Linked DNA regions of Homo sapiens. The protein of the gene in region 1 binds, or shares a complex with, the protein of each later gene. Links are inferred from orthologs where the notes say so. Each region holds a gene or a part of one and is shown in the gene's direction. Other genes may lie near its edges.

Evidence for each region.
Region 2: the proteins of MUSK (region 1) and DOK7 are in contact, whole or in part, in a crystal structure (PDB 3ML4), measured with the Mus musculus proteins. The link is inferred for Homo sapiens from one-to-one orthologs. Residues at the interface, in NP_035074.2 of Mus musculus: Leu547, His548, Pro549, Asn550, Pro551, Met552, Tyr553, Gln554, Arg555; in NP_001335203.1 of Mus musculus: Leu154, Ser155, Asp156, Leu157, Arg158, Arg159, Tyr160, Gly161, Gly172, Thr173, Arg174, Ser193, Asp197, Val200, Arg201.

The regions. Positions count from the first base shown.
Region 1 is NC_000009.12:110,668,883-110,680,292, forward strand, and holds part of MUSK (muscle, skeletal receptor tyrosine-protein kinase isoform 1 precursor), read left to right. Parts: 5' UTR 1-22; coding exon 23-101; intron 102-11,410.
Region 2 is NC_000004.12:3,473,306-3,484,409, forward strand, and holds part of DOK7 (protein Dok-7), read left to right. Parts: intron 1-100; coding exon 101-331; intron 332-1,634; exon of another isoform or gene 1,635-2,453; intron 2,454-2,995; exon of another isoform or gene 2,996-3,036; coding exon 3,037-3,237; exon of another isoform or gene 3,238-9,110; coding exon of another isoform or gene 9,111-10,145; exon of another isoform or gene 10,146-10,602; intron 10,603-11,104. Other genes in the region: vegetative cell wall protein gp1-like, read right to left, coding at 9,111-10,145. UniProt on the Homo sapiens protein: Probable muscle-intrinsic activator of MUSK that plays an essential role in neuromuscular synaptogenesis. Acts in aneural activation of MUSK and subsequent acetylcholine receptor (AchR) clustering in myotubes. Induces autophosphorylation of MUSK.

The DNA.
Region 1 (11,410 bases):
CCTGCGTGAGCCTGGATTAATCATGAGAGAGCTCGTCAACATTCCACTGGTACATATTCTTACTCTGGTTGCCTTCAGCGGAACTGAGAAACTTCCAAAAGGTTGGTTTGAGCAATCGTGTCTTCTTGTTGTCTTGTCATGGTTGTAAAGTGTGTGTATATGAGATATGACCAAGACTGATTTATAGTATGGTGGGCTTGGGTTTTACTTGAAGAAGTAAGGGTGAAATGTATGATGAGGGAGGAAATTATATACATAAGCAATTGGTTGATGGTCTCTCTACCAATATTTTACTCCGAAGTTCTGCAATAAAAGGCTTAGCCACATAGTGCATGCAGAGCTCTGACTTCTAGGGCAAAACATAAGCATGTACACTGCAAGTTATCAAGGTCTATTTTGTTTATGCGAATGTCAAATTTCAGGGTGGTCTAAGTGGATGATGACAACCTTTTCGCATCAGGTTTGCCAGGAATAGAATCAACCCCATTCTCAGACATCCAGAGCATTTGCTTCTGAATAAAAATCACTTTTATTTTCAGTTTTAGCTTTGCCAAACTCTTAATAAATATTTTAGTTGCTAAAAATTGGAAATACAGAAAGACGTACACAATTTGCCTGTGTAACAAACCCGGAAGACAATGGATTTTAAATAACTTTGAGGCTGGAGTCATGATTTGGCTTGGCAAGAGACTGCAAAAGTTTTTTTCAGAGCCTTTGGAATGTACCGGAAATAACACCACCTCAGGGGAAAGGAAAGCAACTTAAGAAACTGACAAACACCTGTTGCAGTAGCAAGAATGTCCAGTGATATAGTTTCTGGCCAGTGTATTATGAAACTGGGACTAGCGTATTTGAAATCAGAAAGACTGGAAAGTCTGTGATTTGCAAAGTGACTAAGGGTATCACTGAAATCTTTTTTTAAAAAGACATGAGAAAGCAGATCGAGTGGTATCAATACAAGAGTTTTCAAATTTAATGTTATACCATAGAGTAAAAAGAGATTTTTGCTTCAGGACATGTTCAAATTAATCATTTTCCCTTTATATTAATCAAAGCACTGAAACAGTTTGTATTGTGTAGATAAATGAAGGTGGTATCTGTATATAGATGCAAAATGTATCTTTAGATTTTCTGGTTCACTAAAAATTCTGGAGCCATAAGGTCAAAGTTCACATGCAAATAAGATGCGGGTTTCTTCACAAACAATCTGATTTCACAGATTTTTTTGTTTCATTTTGTTGCTTCTCTTTTTCCATTTTACTTGAGTATAATGGTATCTTCAAATGTATTTAAACATTTAATTTCTAATGAATACTTTAAGGCATCTACAGATAAAAGAGACTCTAGATCTTTTCAAACAGCTAATAATAGTCAGAAAGACTTAACATTGGCTTCAGATTATTTTAATACTTCCTGATCAAACAACGGATGTCCGGTAAGGCCCCACCTGGATGTTTGAACGTATGGGTTGTCTTAAGTATTATTTGTATATTTCTAAACCACGCAGTTACATAAAAATGATAGGGTTAAATACTAAAATACAGTCTTATAAAGAGCAGGACAATTGATTTTGATGATTCAAATAAGGATTTGTTGTACACACACACAAAACCCCCAAAATCTCTCTATCTGAATAAGTCTTAATTTATATTCTAGAAAGAATTGATTTTCATTTCCAAACTTTACAAATAAAGCCCTTAATTCAAATGCACACTATCTCTATTTTGAAAATATTGAAATATAGTGGCATAGAGATAACAAAGCCAAACACCCTGACTTTTAAATAAACTAACCAGATCATTCACCCAATTTCATTTCTTATAATTTATTTACTACTAGAATTAGGTTTTAAAATCAAAAAATTTAAGCAATTTTTTCTCAGTCTATTGTACTGTAAAATCTAAATTAGTATGAGTTTAACATCACTCTTAGCCAAAATACCATGTCTAGGAGAACAAACATTTATTTACTACATACAGCAGTTCTGAGAATAACTAATATCATGAAAGCATAATCCTTAAAATTTTAAATGTTGAAGGGTGAGGAATACATTGGTAGAAAAGAACCACAATAAAATTTTATTATTTTCATTATTATTATTATTATTTGAGACAGAGTCTCGTTCTGTTGCCAGGCTGCAGTGCAGTGGTGTGATCTCAGCTCACTGCAACCTCCTCCTCCCAGGTTCAAGCTATACTCCTGCCTCAGACTCGCAAATACCTGGGACTACAGGTGCAAGCCACCACACTCGGCTAATTTTTATATTTTTAGTAGAGACAGGGTTTCACCATGTTGGCCAAGATGGTCTCCATCTCTTGACCTCGTGATCTGCCTGCCTCGGCCTCCCAAAGTGCTGGGATTACAGGCATGAGCCACTGCGCCAGCCATTATACTACTGAAACTAATAAAAATGGCCCACCCAAACTATTTCTACTATTTCTAGAAAACTACTGTTTTCCCTATTCTTGGCAGACGGTAATAACAAAAAGAGTTTTTTAGATAATATACTTCTTCCTAAGTCCTTTATCATGAATGCATAAAGGAAATTGTACAATATGTATTAGCTAATAAATTGACATATTTAAAATAACACAAAAGTATTCAGTGGATTATTTTCTGACTTTCTGCACATCATTTTTTGATAAAAATTAATATCCAACTTTGTAGAATTAATTGTTCATAGTTTTCATTTTAGTTTAATTAAGGCTACTAATGCCCAATGATAAGGGGAAGAATCATTGTCTTTCTGAATCATTTCAACTAGTGATATTTTCAATGATGAATTCAGTGCCATAACCCAAGTAGTAGAATTTCACAAACTGTCATTTATGAAAGTAGCCAATGTTCCACTGGATAATTGGCTTAACTACATACATCAATAACATTTAATGCTTTATTAGGGAGTATTAAATGTATGGTGCAATGTTAGATTCTGCAGGAGCATAAGAGTTCATGTAAGCAGCTCTGGATTTGCTTAATATGCACAAAGAACTATCAAAAGTCTCACTTTCAAAACACCCGACTTACTACAATACGTTGAAGTGTTTGAGCGTACGTGATTTTATCTTTAGATAGATTTGAATAACCTCCTCTTTTAAATTGTATGTATATAAGGATAGGATTCACAGATTTGACATATGACTAAGTCATGACTGACACAGCTGTCATTGAAATCCAGGACACACAGTCCTGGATGAATATTTTATATTGACATGCATTGAAAGAGTTACTCATTGCATGTTTGAGTAAACAGAGTTGCTTCAAATATTATTGACCTTAAAGAAAAGAAGGAAGGAGCAGAAATTTCAAGATCTCTTTAAACTCTACCTTATTTCCAAAGGTAAATGAAGTAGGCAGCTTCTCAGTGAAATAAAACCTGATGTCGTTGAAGGAGAGTAACAAGTGAGGGGTGGAAAGAGGGCCTGAAAGGAGTGGCTCTATTCAGGAAGATGAGAGGATCACATGGGCCATGCTGAAGACCCAGCTGGGGCTAGGAACTGCAGCTTTCTTTATAGTGCCCCTGACCTGAACATTTACTGCACTATACCCAGCAGTGCTATGTGAACATAGGGTAGGGAGGACAGATGGCTGGATTAATTCAGGATTGGCACTTTCCAGGGTCAGTACAGCTAAAGAACTAGAGAGTAAAGGAGTTGGAGTTATATGGCAGCGTACCATGAGATACAGATTGGATCAGGAAGAAAGTAAAACAAGGATATTTAATGCTTGGAAGAGAAGGTTAAAAAGTTTAAACCAACCCCAAAGTGTTTTGTTGTACTAAAAAAAAAATACTGCATTCATAATGTTAGAGAAACATGAATATTTTCCAAGTCAGAGCCCTAATTTTACTAAAATAGAAAGGAGCAAATACACCTTGTTTCTTTATGTACCCAATCATTGGGTCATGTCAATCCAAAAATAATCAATCAAAAGTTGGTAAGTCAATAGTCATATGCGAGAGCCCATAAAATACAAAGGAAAGGTAATGTCATGTCCTTCTCATCAAGCAGTTGATATCCAAGTCAAGCTTTTCTTCGGGTCCAGAAAAGGATTGTGTTCATTTTCATGTATTTGTTATTCATGTAGTCCTTGGATTGAGAGAAGAAATAGTGCCCTAGTTTAAACGAGCTCTGGCTGAGATGAAAGCTGGATAGTAGAATGAAAGTAAACAAGAGACAGTGTGCTGAGTCAACAAATATCATTAAATACAACTGATCCATGTGATTGTGTCAGTGAAAACCGGAAAGCAGATTTGGATAACTGGAAATATGGACAATGTGGACTTGGCATTCTGTGTGTAGAAACTGATATTGATGTACATCTTCTCTTATCCATCTGTGCATAATCAGTATGATCTTGAAGATGCAGTATGTCTTAGAGAAAGGAAGTATAAACCAACTTTAACCCTGAAGTTCAGCTAGTTCAGCTCTATCACTTCCTATTTTTGTGATATGTAGACAAGTTGTGCAACCATTTTTAGTCCCCATTTCTGGTCTGCAAGTGGAAATATTAATAGTATCTACCTTTTTTGTGTTAAATAAAAAGATAATGAATAAAAAGTATAATGCATGGCACATACCAGATTCTTAATCACTTTTAGATGCTAATATTAGTAAAAACAGTCAAACTTCACACAAGACTGTTATGTCACTGAATCTTATGGGAAGGTGTTAACTTAATAAAGTTCTTAGTAACACCTTCCATATTTCTCCATGTCTATTTTCCAAGACATTCTAAGACTCACTTCTTTGATCTTAACTGATCTCAACAGTTCATGTGACATCTCCAGTGTGTCACCTCATTGGAAAGATAACATTAATAGTAAGTCTATTACCTCTGCCACTTCTGCATCTGTGTATTGAGTGAAAATAACACTAGTGCATAAAGTTTCTCTCTTATAAAAGTAGCACATGGTATTTAAGATTGATTTTGAAAATGCAAAATACATAAAGTTTAAGACAGAAGAAGTCATCCATACTTCCAGGACTATTAACACATTGGCATATTTTCTTCCATTTTTTTCTACATATTTTTAAAGTCCTTATTAACATTGTGCTGCCTGCTATTTTTACTTAGCACTAAAGCATGAGCATATTCTATATTATTAGTAATCTTCCAAACGTCATGTGTGGTGACTAAATAATATTCTGTTTAGATAACAGTGTGCTAGTATATGTTTAATATTCACCTCACTGAGAAAAAAAAAGACGTGGATTTGTTGCTCTTGTTTATTTCTGCAGTAAAATACTCTATAGTAAAAAACTCTATTGTGTCTGTGGCCAGTCTCAAGCTACTATCAAATAATGAGCACTGAGTTGGGAAATAGCATGTGTAGTAGCATCCTTCATATATTATTTCTACCACACAGACACATTACAGATAACCTCAAGAACTTATATAATAATAAAATGTAGTTAAATCATTGGGAATTTCAAGTATTAATACTTTGTTTTTAATATATTTGATTATAAATGTATACAACTTAGTTTTTAATAATGATTGTATATAACAATCACCTCTCAAAATTCCTAAAAAATTACCAAGTGGCTCTTGCAAACCTGCGGAAGACAAAACTTGTGTGCCTCAATCTTCTCCCACTTGACTACGATTAATAGAATTTAGTACAATTGATCTGTTTTCTGCAGTAAAAGTCACCTATATGCCTTTCTATATGTGAGATTATTTCCTTAGGATAGATTCCCAGAGATGATGATGATGATGATGATGATATTATTATTATTTTAGAGATAGAGTCTTGCTCTGTCACACAGGCTGGAGTACAGAGGTGCAATCACAGCTCACTGAAACTTTGAACTCCTAGGCTCAGTTGATCCTCCCACCTCAGCTTCTTCCCAAGTAGCTGGGATTACAAAGTGTGTGCCACCATGCCGGCTAATTTTTAAATTTTTTGTAGAGATGTGGTTTCTCTGTGCTGCCCAGCCTGGTCTCAAACTCCTAGGCTCAAGTGATCCTCCCACCTCGGCCTCAAAAGTGCTGGGATTACAGACATGAGCCACCAACCACACCCAGCCTGAGATAAAATATTAACGGTATAATACATTTGAATGTAATAAAGACAAGGAAAACAATCAAACAGCCTGGGTTTCTTTTTCTAAATTATAGAATCAAGTAACATTTGCACAGTGCTCCATGTGGACCAAGGACAATTTTAAATGGTTTCCATTTATTTATTCCTTGTGACAAGTTATGTGGAGGCTATACATTATCTCCGTCTATAGCTGAGACACTGAGGTTAAGTGTGGTTAAGTGACTTGCAGAGTCGGTAAGTGATGGAGCTGGGATGTGAATTCAAGTCCTGTGCCACATTGCCTCTTTTTTTTTTTTTTTTTTTTTTTTGAGACAGAGTCTTGCACTGTCGCCCAGGCTGGAGTGCAGTGTCGCGATCTCAGCTCATTACAAGCTCCGCCTCCCTGGTTCACGCCATTCTCCTGCCTCAGCCTCCCGAGTTGCTGGGACTACAGGCACCCGCCACCACGCCCGGCTAATTTTTTGTATTTTTAGTAGAGATGGGGTTTCACCCTGTTAGCCAGGATGGTCTCGATCTCCTGACCTCGTGATCCGCCCGCCTCGGCCTCTCAAAGTGCTAGGATTACAGGCGTGAGCCACCGTGCCTGGCCGCTACATTGCCTCTTAATGTGTAGTTGCTCAATAGTCTTCCCTTTTTTTTTTTTTTTTTTTTTTTTTGGGACTGAGTCTCACTCTGTTGCCCAGGCTGGAGTGCAGCGGTGCGGTCTCGGCTCACTGCAATCTCCACCTCCTGGGTTCAAGTGATTCTCCTGCCTCAGCCTCCCGAGTAGCTGGGATTACAGGCCTGCACCACCACACCCAGCTAATTTTTGTATTTTTAGTAGAGATGGGATTTCACCATGTTGGCCAGGAATCTCTTGAACTCGTGGTCCTCCCCGCCTCGGCCTCCCAAAGTGCTCGGATTACAGGCGTGAGCCACCGCACCTGGCCTAGTCTTTCTTTTTAAACAGTAAAAGCATTCAACATCATCAATTAACCTTTGGGCTCATTGTTAACCACACTCCACAAGCTTAATAAAATATTGTTTTTGTTCTTTATCTCTCAATATCTAGATGATTATACTATTAATTGCTTATTTCATTCATTCGTTGTTTAGAAAATAACTTTTTATTGAGATTGACTTTCTCAAACTTTATGAATTATAAGTTTGCCTCCATTGCATTTTGAAAATTAACACTTCTTTGGCATTCTATCTGCTACAATTTTTTTCTATTATGAAAGCAATATGTATTCATTTTTTTAAAAAATCCTGTAAGATACAGAAAAACAAAAATATAAAATTACACATAATGCTCATAGCAAGGGATAAGTGCTCTTAGCATTTTGCTATTCATTCTTTCAGTCTCTTTCTCTCATATATGTGTGTGTGTATATGTAAGTGTATATATGTTGTATATATACACATACACACACATATATTATATATTATATATTATATATGTGTGTGTATGTGTATGTAATTTTATTTTGTAAATTTTAAGTTCCGGGGTACAAGTGCAGGATGTGCAGTTTTGTTACATAGGTAAACGTGTGCCATGGTGGTTTGCTGCACCTGTCACCCATCACCTAAATAACTGGGCTCAGCATGTATTAGCTATTTTTCATAATGCTCTCCCTCCCCCAATCCCACCTGCTGACAGGCCCCAGTGTGTGTTGTTCCCTTCCCTGTGTCCATGTGTTCTCATTGTTCAGTTCCCACTTATAAGTGAAAACGTGGTGTTTGCTTTTCTGTTCCTGCATTAGTTTGCTGAAGAGAATGGCTTCCAGCTCTATCCATGTCCCTGCAAAGGACATAATCTCATTCCTTTTTATGGCTGCATAGTATTCCATGGTGTATATGTATCACATTTTCTTTATCCAGTCTATCATTGATGGTCACTTGGGTTGCTTCCATGTCTTTGCTATTGTGAATAGTGCTGCAGTGAACATAGGTGTGCATGTATCTTTACAAATTTCAGAGGCTGTTATTTCATTGAGGAAAGAGAAGCATTTAAATAAGAAGCTCTCTCTTCAGCTGCCTACCAGCAAAGGGGAAAAACCTACCTCTCTGCATCCATCTTGTCCTCCTTCTCCCTCACTGTGCTTTAAGAGGACTTTCTCTTCCTATCCGTGGTTAACCCGTCTTTCTTCCTCTGAGCCCCACATAAATCTGCTTTCTCAGGGACCTATTTCCCTCAATTATCTCCTGTCTTTCTCCAATGTCCTACATTTTTGCTTCTACTAGGTGCTTCCAGTCAGCATTTAAACCCACTCTTGTCACCATACTCACCTCCAGCACCATGCAGCCCCTTTCTTCCCTTTTATTGTTAAACTCTGCTGCAAAAAGATGTCTTCCCTCTCCTCTTAGTTTCCACTTCCTTATCACAACCTAACCCCCACCACTGCAATCTGGCTTCCGCCAAATCTGCAAGCACCAAAATCAACATGACCTCCTCATCAGGAAACTCAGTGGGCACTTTTAGGTCCTTATTTAACTTAACGTCTCGGCAGCATTTGATTCTCCCTCTTTTGTGAAACGTGTGCTACTCTTGGGCTCTGCCAATAGCCTCCACTGGCTTTGCTTACAACTCTGATTTCTTCCTCTCAGTCTCTTTTCTAAACTCTTCATTCTCCCACCCATCTTTTATAAATGTTTGTGTTTTCTTCTAATTGGCTTAGGGCACCAGCCTCCCTCCGTCTTCAGGCTTTCACGGGTACCGTTTCCTCTGCCTGGAACACTCTTCTCTCTCCACTGCACCAAGCCAAATTTGAATCATCCTGTGAATGTGTGTGAATGTATTGTGTAGTTTTTTTTTATTCCTAGTTTTATCAAGTTCAGTGGTTGAGAAACATTATTTATCATGTTAAAGAAATACTATTATATTCCGACTCTACTAATGGTTTTCAAGTAGGGAATGGATAGTTAACTCTGTTACTGCCTTTTTGACTGTGATAGGTATCTTTTAAACTATGACTATAGTAAATCCTGTTTAAAGGACTTTTCTATTAAATTATCCTTATATTTTTGCAAGGATTTTTTTTCTGCCTAAATGCATAGTAATAATTTTGAAATTTATGATTTAATTTAATTTGCTTTTTAAAATTTTACTTTAGGGCTTTACATCCTGCTTGACTTACATTAGCATTGTTTTATTCCAAAGATTGATTTGAGAAGCTTTCTATACTTTATATTCCCTATAGCTTTTGTTTGTTTGTTTTTGAGACAAGGTCTTTCTCTGTCACCCAGGCTGGAGTGCAGTGGTGCAATCACAGCTCACTGCAGCCTTGACCTCCTGGGCTCAAGTGATCCTCCTGCCTCAGGCTCCCAAGTAGCTGGGACTACAGATGTGTGCCACCTGTACCCGGCTAATTTTTTTATTTTTGTATTTTTTGTAGAGATGCAGTCTTGCCATGTTGCCCAGGCTGGTCTCAAAACACCTGGATCCTTCAGTGGATCCTTCTGGGCTCAATGGATCATCCTGCCTCAGCCTCCCAAAGTGTTGAGATTACAGGTATGAGCCACTGCACCTGGCTCCTTGTAGCTTTTATGTAACTGGAGACTTAATTCTTTCTTAAGAGTTTTTTAAAACTTATCTGAAAAACTTTGGGGCATTATATTTTTTTCAGAAGTGTTCTTTGCTAATCTAATCTTTTTCTTCTGTGAGTATTGTTGATGATTTTACCCCACCCTTTACTACATGTGAACAATTTTGTTTTTAAAATTCTTAATTCTTTAGATTTTCATCTTTAAATATTCATTACTGTTTAGCTCTGTTGAATTGTGGTCCAAGAATGTGACATATAATCTGTTTTTAAAATTTATTTAAGCTTTAATTTTCATGGGCATTTGAAAATATGTGTCATCTATCAGGGCTTACAGTTGATGTGCATATCTGTTTAATTAATTTTACTAATTCTGCTATTCTGTTTTACTACATATATAATTATATTTTTGTCTTTTGATCTATAAACAGGATTGGGATTTTTTGTTTTTTTGCTATCTTTTTATTGTCTATTTCTTACAGATTTTATTATGGTTAGAAAATATAGACTATATAAAATCAATTCTTTGAGCTGGGTTAAAATCTCCTATGTAGCTTGGTATATTTTCTTTATGTTTGAATGTTTCATCTATGCATCATTTACAAAATGTATTCTGTAATTGTTTCATTGTTTTATAAATGTACATTATATCTAGTGTTAATTTTGATGTTTATATCTTCTATATCTTTACTGTAGTTCTGTTTGATATATTAGTGTCTGAAGGAGATCTCTTAAAGGGTTACACTATGTTAAAACATTTCTCCATGTACTCTTGTGATAATTTTACTTTTGGGTTTGAGTCCATATTTTTAAATAATTAAGTTTCATGATTGTCATATCTTTTTAGGGCTTGTTCCTTTTATCATTAAGCAATGTTTCTTTTTTTCTTATAAATGCATATGCCCCTATATTACATTTTTCTTATATTACTATTGCTATGTCACTTTCTTTGGGATATCGTTTGCTTTATACATATTTTCCCTCCCCTTTATTTTTAACATTTCTGTTTTATTTTATTTAAGTGTGTCTTTTGTGTTTGATAGCATCTGTCATTTCATAGGTCAGCTTATACCATTGGCACTTACTGTGATTTCTGGTATATTTGGACTTGTTTCTTCCATATTATTTTATGTCTTCTGTTAACCATGCTTTTTCTTGGCTTATTTATTCCTCCTCTTCTTCCTGTTTGTTTTTGCTTTTGTTTTTGATTGATAAAGCCTTTCTGGTACCTCTTTTTTTCTCTGTTGTTTTGGAATTTTTGAATTTTATTTATTTTTTAGTAGTAACCATTAATAAGGTTTTAACATAATCATTTAACCATAGATGCTTCTTTCTGTTTGAAGTTATTCAATATTTCTGTCCTCTTGTTTATGGCAAAGAGCTTAGCATTTTTTAATTACTTAGCATTTTAAACTTCTTTCCTGAACTTTGATCTTATAGTTGTTTGTCTAGAATTTAATTCCACTCTTTTTAAACACAAAAATTTGTGATTTTTTAATATTCCATAGTGTGTTAAAATTGCAATGGTATTTCACCACCATTTATGCTATTGTTTTTTATAACTCACCCCTTTCTTTCTGGTATAAATTATTCCTTAGTGAGTTTATTTACTCTAGTAACTATTTCAGAGAAAGTCTGTGAGTGGTAAACACTCTCAATATTTGTTTATAAGTGTTCTGAGTTTAAAATTATTACCTAAGCTAGCTGTGTAATTCTAAGCTAACAGTTATTTTTACGCAGTCATGTAAAGGTATTAGCCTATTGCCTTTTGGTATCAATTGTTGTTGCTGAATAATCTCAGGTTACCCAAAATTGGCATTCCTATTAAGGAATTAAACTT
Region 2 (11,104 bases), on another chromosome or scaffold:
CCCCAGCCCGGGTCTCTGCACTGTCACGGCCTCCCCGGGGACGCCAAGGGTGCGGGCAGGCGGTGTTGGCTGGCGTCCCTGACGGCCACGCTCCTTGCAGACTGCCTGCTGATGCTGGTCTACAAGGACAAGTCGGAGCGTATCAAGGGCCTGCGGGAGCGCAGCAGCCTGACGCTAGAGGACATCTGCGGGCTGGAGCCCGGCCTGCCCTACGAGGGCCTGGTCCACACGCTGGCCATTGTCTGCCTGTCCCAGGCCATCATGCTGGGCTTTGACAGCCACGAGGCCATGTGTGCGTGGGATGCCCGGATCCGCTATGCGCTCGGCGAGGGTGAGTGACGGGGGCCGGGGCCGGGCGGGGGCTCCCCGTTCAGGTGTGCCGGGGCCCCTCACCAACGTGGGCTGCAGAGGTGGGAGCGGCTCCAGGGAACCGTGCAGGAAGATGGGACATTCATGGGTGCCTTAGGGTGGACTGAGCTCCAGCCTGGGGGTGCCCACGAGGGTTTGGGAGGGGGAGTCTGCTGGGCTATGGTGTCTTTAGAGCTCCCTAGCCTGACCGTTAGTTACAACTGGAGCCTTTAACCCAAGCTGGTGGCCTTTGGAGGGACGTGGCTTCCCAAAGCCCTGCCCTTTGCTTCCTACACTGGACAGTGGAGCCCAGAGCCTGGCTAGGAAGGAGAGCCCCAGGCTGGGCGGTCCCACCCCAGCTTCCCCCCAAAACAGGATGGGAGGGAGGGAGGGAATAGAGGGAGGGGAGAGGGAGGGGAAGGGAGTGCTCCCCTGTGGAACTGGCCCTGGAAGAGGTGGAACGTCAGTCCCAGCCCTGCAGGGGCTTCGAATGGGTGCCTGGGGGCCTCTGGGGGCTGAGCTGCCCTGGGGCTGTGAGCAGAGGTGGGTGGTGATGGGGCCCTGGGCACTCAGCGGCAGAGCAAGCATAATCCTGCATCTCCTAAGAAACCAAAATCAGTGCCAAAACCCCATAATGAGCAAAACAGTAGAATGTCCACTGAGTTGAGTCCTGGTCCTACCCTGGCACCCACCCAATAATCCCAGCAGCCACAGCTGCCCTCCCTTTAAAAACTTGCTATTTTAGGCTGGGCACGGTGGCTCATACCTGTAATTCCAGTACTTCGGGAGGCTGAGGTGGGTGGATCACCTGAGCCCAGGAGATAGAGACCAGACCACCCTGGGCAACGTGGCGAAACCTCGTCTCTACTAAAAATACAAAAATGATGGCCAGGTGCAGTGGCTCATGCCTGTAAACCTTGTGCTTTGGGAGGCCAAGGCGGGCAGATCACCTGAGGTCAGGACTTCGAGACCAGCCTGGCCAACATAGCGAAGCCCCATCTCTACTAAAAATGGAAAAATTAGCCTGGTGTGGTGGTGGGCACATGTAATCCCAGCTACTCAGGAGGCTGAGACAGGAGAATCGCTTGAACCTGGGAGGCAGAGGTTGCAATGAGCTGAGATCGCGCCATTGCACTCCAGCCTGGGCAACAGAGTAGGACTCCATCTCAAAAAAAAAAGAGCTGGGAGGTGGAGGTTGCGGTGACCTGAGGTTGTGCCACTGCCCTCTAGCCTGGGCGACAGAGTGAGACCCTGTCTCAAAAAAACAAACACAAAAAAACTTGCTATTTTGATCAGCATGGACTCTGCATAACTTTACTTTTTAAAATATTGATTAAAATATCCTGGCCCTTGATGGCTGAGTTCTTTGGCCTTGGAGGTGAGTGTCCCGCTCCCCCAGTCTTGTCCCCAAGGCAGCAGCCCCTCCTGCTCCATTGAGTGGGGAGAGAGAAGCTGGGGGCTTAGTGGGAGGAGGTGCGGTTGGCTCTGCAGGAGGGCGCAGGGGAAGGAGACATTAGGAGGGAAGAACTGCATCTTTCCAGAAAGTTCTCCCGTTGGGGGTTCCCTCCAGCCTGGCTCAGCGGCATGGGTCTGCTTCCTTCATCCGCTGGCGCAGGGCCATGGCACAGAGGCCGCTGGGCACCGCCCAGGCAGCTTCATCTTGATAGAACGTGGCCTGACAAGGATGCGCCTGAGGCCACAGCTTGGAGCAGGTAGAGGAGGCAGAGAAGGGGGAGGTGGGATGGGAACAGGGGTCCCTTTGGCTCTGGGGGTTGGAGATGGAGCAGGTGGGGCCCCTGGTGGGGAGGCTGCTGTCTGCCTGGTGTGCTGACCTGGGAAGACAGGGGAGGTGGGGACAGCATTCAGGACCACTGTCCTCTCTGAGGCTTTCAGGGGCAGGGGCCTGGGCAGAGCCAGTGCACAGGACCATGGGGGTGCTCAGGGTTTGGGTGAATGGCCACCTGGATGGAGAGAGGGCCGGTGGTGCCCTGAGGTTCCCGTGGCCAGGCTGGGGCCTCGATACAGACTCCAGACTCTCCACACCCGAACTGGAGGCTGGGGGATCCCTGAGCCTCGGTTTCCCCTTCTGTGATGGAGCCACACAGCTGTGGAGAGAGAGCCTTCCTGGAGAGGTGCCGGGGGTGGGAGCCCAGCCAGGGCACTCAGCTGCCCTGTCCTCCCTAGCACCTCCGTGGTGGGAGGGGAGGGAGGTGGAGGTCCGAGGTCAGGCCCCTCTGGGACTTCCTTGCCCCTGAACAAAGATAGTTCCTGGGAGGATGGCAAGGAGAGAAGTGCAGCCCCCAGGCCCCCTCGTGGCTGTGAGGAGTGCCATTTGCTCATCCTGCCGTCGCTGCCTCCCCGGCTGACACCTGGGCGGCTGCCCCCACCTGCCCCAGCCTGGCCCCTGCCCCTGCTGCCTCCTCCCGAGATGCCCTCTCACCCCACCTGTCCACAGTGGCCCCTGTTGCCTCCTCTCATGATGCCCTCTCGCCCCGCCTGACCGTGATGCCCTCTCGCCCCGCCCACCCTCGATGCCCTCTCACCTCACCCGCCCATGATGCCCTCTCGCCCCGCCTGCCCGTGATGCCCTCTCACCCCACCCGCCCGTGATGCCCTCTCACCCCACCCGCCCGTGATGTCCTCTCACCCTGCCCGCCCGTGATGCCCTCTTGCCCCGCCTGCCCGCAGTGCATAGGTTCCATGTGACAGTGGCTCCAGGCACCAAGTTGGAGAGCGGCCCGGCTACCCTGCACCTCTGCAATGATGTCCTCGTCTTGGCCAGGGACATCCCCCCGGCTGTCACGGGGCAGTGGAAGCTGTCTGACCTCCGGCGCTACGGGGCCGTGCCAAGCGGATTCATCTTTGAAGGCGGGACCAGGTGTGGGTACTGTAAGTACGGATGTGTGGGGTCACTGGGCAGCAGCAGCACCCCCCACTTCCCCTGAGAACTGCTGGCTTCGGGCCGGCCGACCCCACTTGCAGGCTGGCCTGCTGGCATTTCCAGAATGCGCCGGCAGGTGGACGGAGTCTCCCCACGCTCGATGTCCAAGGTCCTCTGCCCGCAGGAACCTCAGTGTGGAGTGTCGAGGAGGGGCCTCGGCTACCTCTGCTCTTCCTCACTGGAGGGAGAGAGTTCAGGGATGCGAGGAGGGGCCTGAGGCCACAGAGCCTCAGAGCCGCTCATATCCAGATTTCATGGAAAGGAAAAAACAAAGAACAAACGCATTTAGCAGTGGGGAGTGTGAGCTCCCGCATAAGCACCGCAGAAACATATTCTTGGACCAAGAATTCCTGGTGGACATGCCAGCCACCCCGCCTGTGGGCCGCCCAGAGCTGCCCTAATGTCCCCAGTGAGGTGGCCAGGCCGTGGGTGGGGATGGCCTGAGTCCTCTGGGCCTGTGAAGGCCTGAGAGCTGTCCTCACTCAGCCAGGGGAGTGAGGGAAATCGGAGCAGGAAGGCACCCAGCCCTGCCCAGAGAGTCTGAGGTGCCCGCCGGGGCTGTGCAGGAGCAGGTTGTTCCAGCAACCCCCTCCACTTTCTCCCATGTTGGGTGCAGATGCGCCAGGTTGCCCTGTGGACCTGCAGTCCCCGCGGAGGGTGTGACGCCTCCTCTCTTCTCTCTGGAGGGGCAGCTGCTCATTGGCCGGGCTGAAGGCGGGCAGAGGGACCTCCTGTGGGCCTGGTTTGGGGCTGAGAGGACTGAGGGACTGCACTTGGCTCACACTGGTGGGGGCTCTGGTGGAGCCTGGATGTGTCTGGGTGGAGGAAACGCAGGCAAGGACACGGGCCACACTGGCCGCCTGGGACCTCATCCTGCAAAGGCCAGCTGGGGCACGGGCGCAAGCCCATCTGGGTGCCACGTTCTGCCACCTTCTGCGCTGGGCGCTGGGAGCAAACCCAGTAGGTCTTGTGGCAGGAGCCAGCCCTGTTGGGGCCTTTGAGGAGACGACATCTGACCCTTGAAAGGGGAACAGGGCAGTGAGGCTCAGGCTCCACGGACTGGGGGCGTACACAGCCAGCTGCAGGAGGCACGTGCGGCAGAGCTGGCCCGGAGTCTCGGCCCCTGGGGCTGGCAGGGGCCATAGCCAGAGTCCAAAGGGCCTTGGCCCCTCTGGGATTGGAGAGCCAGTATGGATGGGCAGGGCCGCTGCCTATGCCAGCTGTGAGCTGGTGCGGGGGGTGGGGTGGGGGGTGGTTCCCGGGAGAGCTAGGACACCTGTCGGGGTCCCATCTGCCCCCAGGCCCTCCCTGCGGCAGGCCAGAGGTTCAGTACTGGGGCTTCGGGAGCCACTGGGGAGTGGGTTGGCGGTGGCTGGGCACAGTGGGTGGGCCCAGCGTCCCTGTCCTTTGTCGTGTGGGAAGCCAGAGCTGCAGGCTGTAGTTGTCCTGACACAGGCAGCCTGTCCTGTCTGTTGTGTGCTAGGTTTGGGGGTGCCTGGAGGAGGGGGACCCATACCTTCCTTTCTGTCTGTGGAATTCCTTGGCACGGGCAGGCAGCCGGCCGGGGTGGCGCCGCGTGCTCACCCTCTAAGCCGGGGCACAGCAGGAGGACCCGTTTCCTTGGAGACCTGCTTATTTTGTCTGGGCCATAATGGAATGGGGACACTGGATGTTTTTCCTCTGAGGCCGTGGAGGTTCACATCCCTGCCGAGGTGTGGGTGGCCCCTTTTCCGCTGGTAAACAATCCCACACCTGGGGCTGTGCTTCTCCCCAGGGCGAGGCTACTGTGCCGTTTTCCTGGGCTGCTCAAAAGCTGGGGGCACTCTTGTGGGGCCGTCTGTCTTGCTGCTGCCTCTCCGGGGCAAGCTGTTAGAGCAGCCCCACCCGCAAACCTGCAAACCAGGCTGGCCCCACAGAACCTGAAAACCTGCAAACCGGGCTGGCCCCACAGAACCCACAAACCTGCAGACTGGGCTGGCCCCACAGAACCCGCAAACGGGGGCTGGCCCCACAGAACCCGCCTTTGCAGCTCAGTGCTGAATGTTCTCGTCCCCGGTGGTACCCTGGCCTGAGAGAGGAAGGGCTCTGGGAATTCGGTCACCGACGGCTGCACACCCCGTAGGGTAGGTGGGTTCTGGAGGCCAGGCTGGAAGGCTTGGCCGAGCCACCCATCCCTGTCCCCAGCAGGCCCTGCTGGGCTGTATCCTCCTGGAGACAGGCGTGGCCACCACCCTGGGTGGTTTAGGCTGGGTCTTAGACTCGGCCAAGCGGTGGTGTTCTCAACGCAGCACTGAGTGCAGGCCGTCTGGCTGGAGGGACGGGGAGTCTGCGGCACGTGTGGGCAGCCTGGGGCCTCCTGCGGGAGGGAGCCGGCAACTCGGGTGGTCCAGGGGCAGCGGCATCAGCTTCCTGGGGCTTCTGTAGCAGATGACCCCCAAGAGAGGGCCAAGTGTCCAGAACGGGTTCCTTCTGCAGCCTGGAGGCCAGAAACCCCAAATCAAGGGGTCCTCAGGGTTGGCTTTTTCCAAAAGCTCTTGGGGAGGACCCATGGGAAGGTCCTTCCTGCCCCTTCCAGCCGCTGGTGGCCCCGGCGGCCTCGGCTCGTGGCTGTGCCACTCCAGTCCCTGCGCCTGCTGGCTCCTGCGTGAGCCTCCTCTTCAGTCTCTTGCAGTCTGTGGACTTAGGGCCCACCTGGATGACCCAGGGTGACCCCATCCCGAGACCATCAATTCCATCCGCAGAGGCTCCTGTTCACAGGCCCTGGTATGTGAACACATTTTGTGGGCCACCATTTGGCCGACAACTGGGGCCACTGGGACGGAGAAATATCCAGAATCTGAATCCCAATAAGTCTGTGGGTGTCGTCACATTCAGTCTGGAGGTCACAGCTGGGCTGGAGTCGTGGGAAGGCCCTGGAAGTTCTTGGGTGTAGGAAATCCACATTCCCTCCTTCCCCAGGGACAGGTCCTAGCCTGGCCCCCGATCCCCAGAACCGCCTCACTTGGCCCCGCCACAGCCAGCTCTGCAGAGAGCAGAGAGGGTGACCCTGGCCCAAGGCGATGGCTGCGCCTCACTCATCCTGAGACACTGGGCGTGGCTGTGCATCACGGGGGCCCTGGTGGGGGTCGGGTGGAGACAGGCCTGGCTGGTCTTGGTGCCTGGGGGGCAGAGGTCTCTCTGTGGACAGCTGCCTGTTCAGAATGGGACAGGAGGTGGCTTGGTGACAGCAACCCCCGGGTCCCCAGTGTGGCCCAATTCCCCGTCTCTGTTGGTCACGGGCCTGTAGTGTGGACTCCTGGAGCTTGGCCCGAGCGCACTTGGCACATGGCAGGCGACGGTCTGTGGACAGCTCAGGTCTGCAGGCTCCAGCCTCACACACGGGCAAGTGACTGGGCCCCGCCTTCGGGGATGGACTGTGCGTGGTGGAGAGTGATGCAGAGAGGGCCACTCGCCCTGGGACAGGCTCAGCTTGCAGCACAGACGGTGGTGGGCCCCAGAGAGGGTGAGCCCACCCAGAGCCTAGGAAGGGAGGGCTTTGGAGGCGCAGGGGGACGTTTGAGCTGGGCCTTGAGGGTGAATGGAAGCTTTTGGAGGTGCCCCCTTTTTCCCCCCTTACCTGCTCTCTCCAGCTGGGTCCAGTCCAAGGACCATATCTGCCTCTTTGCCCAGCCTCTGGGGGCCGCCCGGAGCATTTGAAACTCATTTTGACTTTTAAAAATGATTAAGAATGTGGCCAGGCACAGTGGCTCATGTCTGTAATCCCAGCACTTTGGGAGGCGGAGGTGGGAGGATCACCTGAGGTCAGGAGTTCGAGATCAGCCTGGTCAACATGGTGAAACCCCATCTCTACTAAAAATACAAAAATTAGGCAGGTGTGGTAGCAGGTGCCTGTAATCCCAGCTACTCCAGAGGCTGAGGTGGGAAAATCACTTGAACCTGGGAGTTGGAGGTTGCAGTGAGCTGAGATCCCGCCATTGCAGTCCAGCCAAGGCAACAGAGCCAGGCTCTGTCTCAAAAAAAGAAGAGTAAAGAATGAAAACCTGAACTAGGAGGCTCTTGCTACATGAACGCGGCATCTGCCCAGCTCTGGAGAGCCCCCTGCCGGCCACCTTTGGCCACTGCAGCCTGCGGGGGCAGCCTGGACAGAGCTGGCTGGAACCCTGGCCTCTGTCAGGCAGCAGGGAGCGCCTTCAGCAGTTTCTCATTGCCGGGCGCTGGGCCTAGGGATCAGACGGTCCGGCCTCAGAGGCTGCGTGAGACTGAGTGAGGCATTTTCAGTCCTCAGAGGGTGCGAGGGGAGCCAGGAGGGGCACAGACCCCAGGCTGGGGGCACTGCGGGGAAGCTCTCTGGAGGGGCGAGCCTCAGGGGACTTCTGCAGGGTGAATAGGAGTTAGCTCAGCTGTCAGAGGGTAAGGGGTGGAGGGGGGTGAAAAGGGCACTTCAGACATCTTTGAGCACGAATGGGTGTCCCGAAGGGCTGTGTAGGAGCCCTGTTGGGGGGGATAGGAGGCGTGAGGGTGGAGGAGGAGGAGGAGACAGGGCTGGGTTGTAGAGAGCTGGCTAATTGGACCAGTGTTTGTTTGCACCATTGTCTCGGAGCAGCAGGGAGCCATTGAAGGTGCTTGAGCATGGGGAGTGTTTTATATGCTAATGTTGACCCCGGGGTGCAGATGAGCTTGGAGGAAGAGGCTGGCAGGGGCCAGAGAAGGTTCTGATTGAGGTCCAGAAGATGGAGGGCGAGGCTGCCCCAGGCAGCAGCTGCCTGGTTGGGGGATGGGAACCCTGTGGATTGCAGGAATGTTAACAAGGTGGTGATGGACAAGGGGAGGAGGGCCGGCCCGGGAAGGGGGGGCCTTCTAGAGTGGTGCCCCTGGACTGGGGCTGCTTCAGGAGGGCAGAGGAGGGGTGGGAGCCAACACCCACTGCCAGGCTCCAGGCCTTCCTCCACCCGAGACCCACTAGGTGGGGCCACTCCCAAGTGTACAAGAAGCTGCCACCTTGGGGGATGGAGAGGGCTGAGGGTCATGTTATCAAGACTTCTCAGTCCTGCCCATGCCTACCTGGCATGAGCCATCCAGGACACCCTGGTCACCCCGATGTTTGTTCTCTGAGGAGCTGGGATTATGAGCACTTAAGATTCTGACATCAAGGGGCAGCCACGAGGGCACTCAAGAATATTCAGATGGAAACCATCTTAGATCTAATTGGCTCATTAAATGTCTGCGTGGAGGAGCATTTTCTTTCTCAAGCCGGTGAGTCCTGGAGTTAGTGCAACAGCTTTTTCACTGGAGACGTGTTTCTCAGGAAGCAGGTGCGTCTGTAACGTGGGTGAGGTTTGCCTGCCGCTCAGCAACCCCAGCCTCTGTCCAGAGTTGGCGCCGCCCTGAGCCCCGCAGCTCCTGGCCTTCTGCTTGTGTTCTGCTGACTCTGTCCTGCTTCTCTGCGTCTTCCATGCTCTTTCCTCTTACCCTCACGCCTCCTATCCCCCACAACAGGGCTCCTATACAGCCCTTTGGGACACCCGTTTGTGCTCAAAGATGTCTGACGTGCCCTTTTCACCCCCCTCCACCGCTTACCCTCTAACAGCTGAGCTAACTCCTATTTACCCTGCCACACCTAGCGGCTGGCGGCTGTTCCCTGGCTGGCAATTCTGTGGGCCAGGGATCTGGACGGGGCTCAGTGAGGACAGCTCATCTCTGCCCCATGAGGTGCTGCCTGGGGTCCCTCGGGCAGTGGCATTTGGCTATGGTGGGGCCCAAAGGCCCAGGAAAGCACTGTGCCGGCTGTTGGCTGGGTTGCCTCAGTTTCCCTCCAGGAACCTCACCCTCCGATAGGACACCTTGGGCTTCTCAATAGGTTCCAAGAGAGCAGAAGCTGCCAGGCCTCTGACGGTCTTGGGGCAGGGCTGGGAGAGCATCCCTCATGCCACTTTATGCCAGAGCCATCACTGGCTGGCTTCGATTCCAGGGAGGGAGTGGACCAGCCTCTGGAGAAGGAGCGGCCTCTGAGGGCAGGGATAGGGGAAACAGAGTGGCCGGCTTTGCTGCAGTCACACCTGTGTGATATAGCAAAATGGGGCAGGCCCTGTTCTCCCCCCTTTCCCCAAACACACAGGCAAACAGGAAACATGCGCACCCTGTCTTGGGGAAGGGGCAGGGGGGCGGTCAGCAGCCTCTCACCTATGTCTTTCCACCCAAGGCCGAGCACTGGGGGTCTCCTGGTTATGGGCGCTTGGGTGGACACTGAGACCACAGACGGCTTGTGCTCCCTGCCGGCAAGGTGCTCAGCCTGGCAGCCGGGACGGCAGCAGGTGGGGCTGAACCCCAGAGGAGGCGTCCGTGAGAGCACCACAGAGGGGCTGTCGGGGTCAGGGGACTGAAGGGGGCCAGAGGCCAAGAAAAGCATCATGAAAGGTGTCGTTATGTGGCCTGAGTCTGGAAAGGTCTGGGGTGTTCTAGGTGGCCAGGGGTGTGGAGGGTGGGGGTGGCAGCCTCCTGAGTGGAGATGTAGGGGTGTGGAGGGTGGGGACGGCAGCCTCCTGAGTGGAGATGTAGGGGTGTGGAGGGTGGGGACGGCAGCCTCCTGAGTGGAGATGTAGGGGTGTGGAGGGTGGGGACGGCAGCCTCCTGAGTGGAGATGTAGGGGTGTGGAGGGTGGGGACGGCAGCCTCCTGAGTGGAGATGGCAGGCAGACCTGGTGTGCAGAGGGAGCTTTGAGCATTCCCAAGACCGGGGGGGGCTGGGTGGGAGCGGGGGTGGAGCATGAACCCAGGGAGGCCCAGCGAGAGCCTAGTCGTGCGGTGTCCTGGGAGGCCATGGCCCAAGACCTTGGCAGACCAGCATTGGAGATGGGCATCTTCCTCCAGGGCCACTGATGTCAGCTCTGCTGGCATGGATGATGGGGGTGGCTGGCGAGGGTGTCGCGTGGGCACGTGGGAGCCCGAGGCTGGCGGTGGGCTGTGCTCCAGGCCTTGCCCGGTTGACCGTGTCTTCGGGGTGAGTGACGCTCCGCAGACGCCGCATGGAATGCGGGGCCGGCTCCACTCCTTCCGTAATGTGGTTTTTTATAGTCGGGGGACTCATTGTCCCGTGGCCACTGCCAGCTGTCTGTAAGCTCAGGATTAGAGAGCCTGGCCTTTCGTGAGAGCTGGGGCTGTGCCGGCTGAGCCCTTCACAGGGAGGGGTGGACCACGGGGACAGGGAGCGACTGCCTGGCACTGAGTGAGCCAGCCAGCAGACAGCATGACGGCCTTCTCCTTGCCTGCCCCCAGGGCCTGGTGCAGGCTCTCTTCTGCCCACCCTACCCAGCTTGGGGGCCCCACCCCATCACGGCCCTCATGAGCCTCTCGGGGCATCCTCCTGGATGGCATCGCAGCGGGCATTGGCCTCCCCTCCATGCCCACCTCCAATTCTGATCAGGAGCACCCCTCACCCACAGTAGGACTGGAAGCTCTATCGGGCCAGAAGGTGCACAGGGGGCCAGGGGACTTGGACTTGAGTCCACCTCGTGGCTGTGTGATGGTGGACAGGTGGCGTGCCTTCTCTGGGCCTCAGTGTCCTTTTTGCTAAAGTAGGAATGGCGCTGTCCCATGACCCGGTTTGGGGACACTACGTGGAAGGAAGCATCCACAGCACAAGGTGCCGCTCGCCCTCGTGTGCCCGGGGTGGCTGCCAAGGGGCCGGCAGCGTCGCCACGTGTCGGGGCTGGCCTGAGTTCCGTGTCCCTGGAATCTACAGCCTGTGTTCCGTGAAGGCAGAGCATGACTGGGCAGCAGGCAGCGGGGGTTCTAATGCCGAGATTTCCCTTCCCCCCAA